Regions from separate parts of the Homo sapiens genome. Here region 1 is linked to region 2. The links come from fine-mapping of genetic effects on gene expression. A gene starts in region 2. The other region holds a variant in brackets. All regions are shown on one strand. Distances are from middle to middle.

Region 1 (2,903 bases), 74 kb after region 2:
CCCTGTCATCTCCACCACAGCCCAGGAGAGGGATGAGGAAATTGAGGCTCAGAGATGGGAATTGACTTGCCCAAGATCACGAGGCTGGGAAGTAGGCAGGACAGCCACCAGATGGGGCCACTGTGGCTCACAGTTCAGTGCTCTCCCGTGGAAGAAGCCACATCACTGAGGAAGCCAATACATTGTTCTCTGGAGTGCCCAAAGCTCAGAGATGGGGCCAACGGTGGGGTGTTCTGGGTTGGACTGAGGGTGAGTAGGAGCTGAGGGTGACCTGTGGTCTTAGTCTCCGCATGGGAAGAAATCTCACTAGAACCCCCCAGGCCAATTCTGAGGGGACCTTGCCTGGCTGTGGGAGAGGCAGCTGGAGCGGGTCCTCATCGGCACTGAGCCCAGCCCAGCCCCCTCATCCTATCCCTGTGACCACCTCACGCCCTGCCCCGCCCAGGCCCCCAGAGGCTGGCAGGCCCTGCCAAGTTTCCAGGGAATGTGTCAGATAAAGGGCTGGTGCTCATGACTCTCTCCCACGTAGCAGCTATCTCTGACCCTACTGCCACTACCACTGCCACCGCCACTGGGAGGTGGATAAGAATAGCAACAGCCCCAGTGAGTGGGCACCCACAGGGACACAAACCATGTCTTTAGGTGTCCAGCCTCAGCCTCAGACTGAGGATGAGTCTCCAGGTTCCCCTTTCCATCAGTTCCAGCCCCACCTAGCTCCCCCATCATCCTGGGCCCAAAATCCTACCACATCTTAGGGTAAAACTCCAAGCCTCATCCCTTGTGGCTGCTGCCTCAGCAGGGGGAATCTGGAGGGGATGCCATCGCCACATTGATCCTGAGCTGGGGCCTGAGCCCTGCCCTTCACTGGGGAGCTGTATGACATGGAGCTGGACATTGTCCCTCTCAGGGCCCACAAGCAGGGCAAGGTGGCACAGCAGCCCCTGGAGAATGAGATAGCCAGCCGAGGCCTCTCCAGGGGCTGGGTACCCCGTTGTCCTGGTGACCACAGTCTAGTCTGGCTTCTGAGTGCCCCTGTGAATTCTGGCTTTCTGGTCAGTGGGGATGTGAAGACAGTGAGGGTCCTCATGTCTCACAGATAGGGGTCACTGGGATACGACCACTGGGTGGTGTTGGGGGG[G/T]CCCTGCATGAGTCCTGTGACACTCCTGTGAGGGTGTGAGGGTAGCTGCGTGACTACAAGGTAAGAGGCTGTTGTCATGGAACCCATGGTGAGCGTAGTTGTGACACCGGAATCGGGAGATCCAGGGAGCCTCATCTCCAACTGTGACACATGGGGGTGATGGAGGGAGCCGAGTCCCAGTCCCCACATCAGTGACTCCTGCAGCTCTCACAGCCTGACTCATTGCATGGCCCCGGACCTGGTACCCCCAGCCTCCTCGCCCCCGGCTCTGGCGCCTTTCTCTCCTCGCGTCCTCCCTGTTCTCAGGCGACTCTTCCTCTTTTGTACCCCCCCCATGTCACCCACCTACCAAAGGGGTCCCAGGGAGGAGGTCAGGGATGCTAGGGAAGAACGAGGAAGGGTGGGCCGAGGCAAGCTCCTCGCACACTCACACATTCCGATGCGTGCATCACACAGACCAGACTGCAGCATATACTTATACACCCACAGACACACGTGTGCACACACGCCTGGTAGAGTGACTGGGCCACTAAGAAGCCTCCCAAGCTCAGTCTTCCAACATCAGCCCTGTCTGGTAGGCCCCCACCACCCCTTAAGTCAGGGTCCCATGCCGCTGAGGCCCTCACATTAGAAACGCATCCTCCCGCCGCAGCAGTGTGTCTGGAGGTGACACCCTAGGAAGAACTTCTGCCCCGAGGCCCCAGCTAGAGTCCTGGGTGGGTGTAGGTAGATGTGGGTGGGGTGGGGTCTCTGAGGGCCCGAGACTGTTGCTTTCTTTGTGGGTGAGGGCCAGACTGACCTCTGGGCCTCCGGCTTCAAGAGCCCTAATCGCTGGGGCTGGAAAAAGTTTAAAAATATCCTCATGTTTACATTCTTTCCAAGCTGCCTCCTGATCCTCCGTGCTGGGTCCCTTTGATCTGGCCCAGTGCCTCTGGAAGGGGCCTGGGAGAAGGGGAGCATGAGGCCTCTGCTGGGGCCCACCCCTCAACCCCCTCCAGCTCCAGCCCAGAACCCTGTGAGACCCTGGACATCACAGACCCTAAGAGCACCTGGGCACTGGAAGGGAGCTGGGGCTGGAAGGGGTGTCTTGCACTCTTGCTTTGGGGCTGGAGCTGGGGCCCCTCTCCAAACTCCCTCCCAAAAGCCTGGGCCTCTTGGGACCTCTAGGGAGTGTGTGTAAGTGCGGGGATGTAGGTCCCTCAACAATCCATGCACTGGGGAAAGTCACATTTACTGAGCCCTGCAGTGCCTGGCACTGTGCTAAATGCATTGTGCAGGGATTATCTCATGTAGTTTTCCTAACGACAAAAACTTGTATCACCAAGTAAGCCAAGGCTCTGAGAGGTGAAGCAGTTTTCCTGGGAACACATCGCATGGATAAGCACAACACATGCTCTTCTACCCATAGAGCTATTGGTTGGCCCCCACCTTGCTCTAGCAGGGGCGAGGCCCTGCCTACAGAATGAAGCCTGCCTCACTAGCATTAATCTCTACAGGCATTCACTGGCCCACTGCCAAGCCTAGAGACCAATCAGCTTTGTGTCTCTCTTCCTCTGCGACCCAGGATAAGCCACACCCCCTCTCTGATCCTCACCTTTCTCTCTTTCTGTTTATGTAGAGACAGAGTTTCACTTTGTTGCCTAGGCTGGCCTTGAACTCCTGGCTTCAAGCAATCCTCTCACCCTGGCCTCCCAAAGTGCCAGGATTACAGGCATGAGCCACCGCACCTGGCCACCTTCCTCTGCAGAATGGGGCTGAGGATACA
Region 2 (2,903 bases):
AGAATTTACAAGAAAACCTAAGTTGGTTATAAGGACTGTTACCCTGTTTCTTCTCCGAAAAGCTTGGAAGCAGGATGTAACTGAGTACCTCCGAAAAAGCCAGAAGAGCCTTAGTTTACATCCTGGCTCAAAGATATGGGGAACTCTGGGCAAATTACCTAACTTCTCCAAGACTCTGTTTCTCCAACTGTAAAGCACAGGAAATGGTTGCTTTCAAGGGTACTCTCAGAACTAAGTGCCTAAAGCCTCTACTACAGCACTAGGCTGGTGGCGCAAACAGAAGCTCCAGTCCTTGGGGACATATAACTTCTGTTGTCTCAGAGGCTCCAGGAAGGAGGAAAGCTGAGCAGCTTTGTTATCTCCACAGCCTCAAGACACAGAAGACGCTCAATAAATAAGGAATGGGTAGTGCAAGGAGAAAAGGCAAGGGTGGGGAAGTACCCAAGGACCCTCCTGATGGCTTAGGCCTGCACTGTCCATTAAGGTAGCTGCTAGCCACATGTACTACTGAGCACAAGCAATGAGGCTAGTGTTAACTGAGATGTGCTGGTAAGTGTAAAATACAATATTTATACGATAGTTTTGGGGGGGCTTTTTTGACGGAGTCTCGCTCTGTCACCCAGGCTGGAGTGCAGTGGCACGATCTCGGCTCCCTGAAACCTACACCTCCTGGATTCAACCGATTCTCCAGCCTCAGCCTCCAGAGTAACTGGGATTACAGGCGCGCACCACCACGCCCAGCTAATTTCTGAATTTTTAAATAGAAACAGGGTTTCACCATGTTGCCCAGGCTGGTCTCGAACTCCTGACCTCAGGTGATCCGCCCGCTTCGGCCTCCCAAAGTGCTGGGATTACAGGCGTGAGCCACCGTGCCGGTCCTCCAAGACAGTTTTAAAAAGGAAAATACTCATGACCAGCTTGGGGAAAGGTGGCAAAAACCTCGTTTCTACAAAAACAAAAATAAAAATAAAAATAAAAATTTAAGTAAAATATCTCAAGAACTTTTTATATTGTGTTGAAATAGTAATGTTTTGGACATATTGGGTTAAATTGTATTTAAAAATCAATTTCATCTGTTTCATTTTACCTTTAGTGTGGTTACTAGAAAATTTATAATTACATTTGCGGCTCACATGAGACTAGCATTTTATTTCCATTGGACAGCGCTGGCTGAGAACAAAACCTAACCCTCTGTGCCGCCCTCGCGGCCGGGATGCGGTGCGCCCCGGGCCTCCCCATTCGGAAAACGAGGAGCCTGGGCGCAACGGGGCCGGCAGCCGCCTTAGCTACCCGGCTGGCGCTGGGGACCCCGTCCCCCGAACTGCACACCGCGTGGCGGGGGAAGGGGTCCCAGCCCTCGCGGAGCACCTTTGGCCCAGGGCGGGAGCTCCGAGCGCCGGCTTCCCGCGCCCCGCACGGCCCGGCCCAGCCTGGAAGAAGGCCTGAGGAAGGCCCGACCGCGCCGCCCGCGCCCTTAGGCCCGGCCCGAATGCTGGAAAGCCCGCCGGCCCGCCCTCGGCTCGGTGAGCCTCGGCTCACCTCAGCTGCCGGTCGTACTTCTGCTCCTTGAGCAGCTTTCCCAGCTGCGCCATGGCCGCGCCTGCCGCGCGGAAAACAGCCGAGCCCCTGCGGAGCGCCGCCACCAGCTCCACAAGCGCGCAGGCGCACTGAGCGCCCCTTCGCCGCTACCGTCTCCTGCGCGCTGCCTGCAGGGGGCGCCGCACTGCACTGCGCACGCGTCGCCGGTACGCCGGGGCCTAAGCGGCCCTGGTACCCGAGCGGGTCTGGGGCTCTTGGTCCCCATCGGCCAGAAAGGCAGACCCGCTAGCCTGCCAATTTGCCCTCTGTCCATGCAGTAATTGGGGGCGACTGGGGCATTGGAATCAGGCATACTTGTATTTCGACCACTTAACTGGCTGTGAGATCTACTCTTTACCTCTCAAATCCTCAGTGTGCTCACCTGTGCAGTGGGGATAAATGGGTCCCAAGTGTCTTTTGACCTTAAATGAGATTTTGAATACAGGAGGCCAGACTCCCCCCAAATCTTGCATGAATAATAACTTTCATTTTGATGATCATTATTTTTCACCCATTTCTTCCTCTCATGAAAAGCCCACAAGCCTATTTTGAATCACAAAGCTAGGGGCTCCCTGCTGCAGATGCAGACAAGTCCAGGGCTCTGTTCTTGGAGAGTTTAGTCTCATGAAGGAAGAGGGACAGCAAACAAGCACTTACCAGACAATGTGGCCTTCCTCTAGATAGAGGGAAGCAGGGTGCTCAGGGGTGCACAGAAGAACCTCCCCAGTCCCCCTCTCCAAGAATGTTTCATGTGGTTTGGAGATGGAGGAGTGTTTTGTTTTGTTTTGTTTTGTTTTGTTTGAGACAGGGTCTCTCTCTATTGCTCAGACTGGAGTTCGGTGGTGTGATCTCAATTCACTGCAGCTTCAACCTCCCAGGCAGCAATCCTCTCACCTCAGCCTCCCAAGTAGCTGGGACTACAGGCATGCACCACCACACCTGGCTAATTTTTGTACATTTTTTGTAGAGATGGGGTTTCGTCATGGCCCAGGCTGGTCTCAAACTCCTGGGCTCAAGCGATCTGCCCGCCTTGGCCTCCCAATGTGCTGAGATTATAGGCATGATCCACTGTGCCCAGCTGGAAGGGTGTTTTAAGCATAAGGAACAGCAGGTGCCATCTCTAGGAAGCAAAGAAGGCATAGCAAGCTGTAGGTGCTAGAGTAAGTTTGGTCAGGTGAAGGATAGGGAGTGGTTGAGAAGGTTTGAGAGACAGTTGGGACAGGCTGGGTTCTGAAGACTGTGAACATAGATCCAAGGAGGAATTTAAAGTCCTCCACTTCCTGAAAAGACCCTCCTTTCAGGAAGAGAACGGCTGTCCTGTGGGG

The links. PIP is the estimated chance that this variant, and not a neighbour inherited with it, causes the effect.
Region 1: its variant is the best candidate, but not a certain one, in a credible set for the expression of NAE1 in fibroblasts (GTEx, PIP 0.52).

The regions. Positions count from the first base shown.
Region 1 is chr16:66,903,327-66,906,229 of GRCh38, forward strand. It overlaps LOC107984821 (a long non-coding RNA gene), which reads right to left and starts at 1,934. Exons shown (of 3, transcript XR_001752244.2): 1 at 1,765-1,934. RefSeq lists an enhancer at 1-2,331. The variant G/T (reference allele first, on the strand shown) is at 1,139.
Region 2 is chr16:66,829,308-66,832,210 of GRCh38, forward strand. It overlaps NAE1 (NEDD8 activating enzyme E1 subunit 1), which reads right to left and starts at 1,669. Exons shown (of 20, transcript NM_003905.4): 1 at 1,540-1,669. The coding sequence starts at 1,592. RefSeq lists silencers at 1,144-1,353, 1,364-1,423, 1,405-1,629 and an enhancer at 1,393-1,893.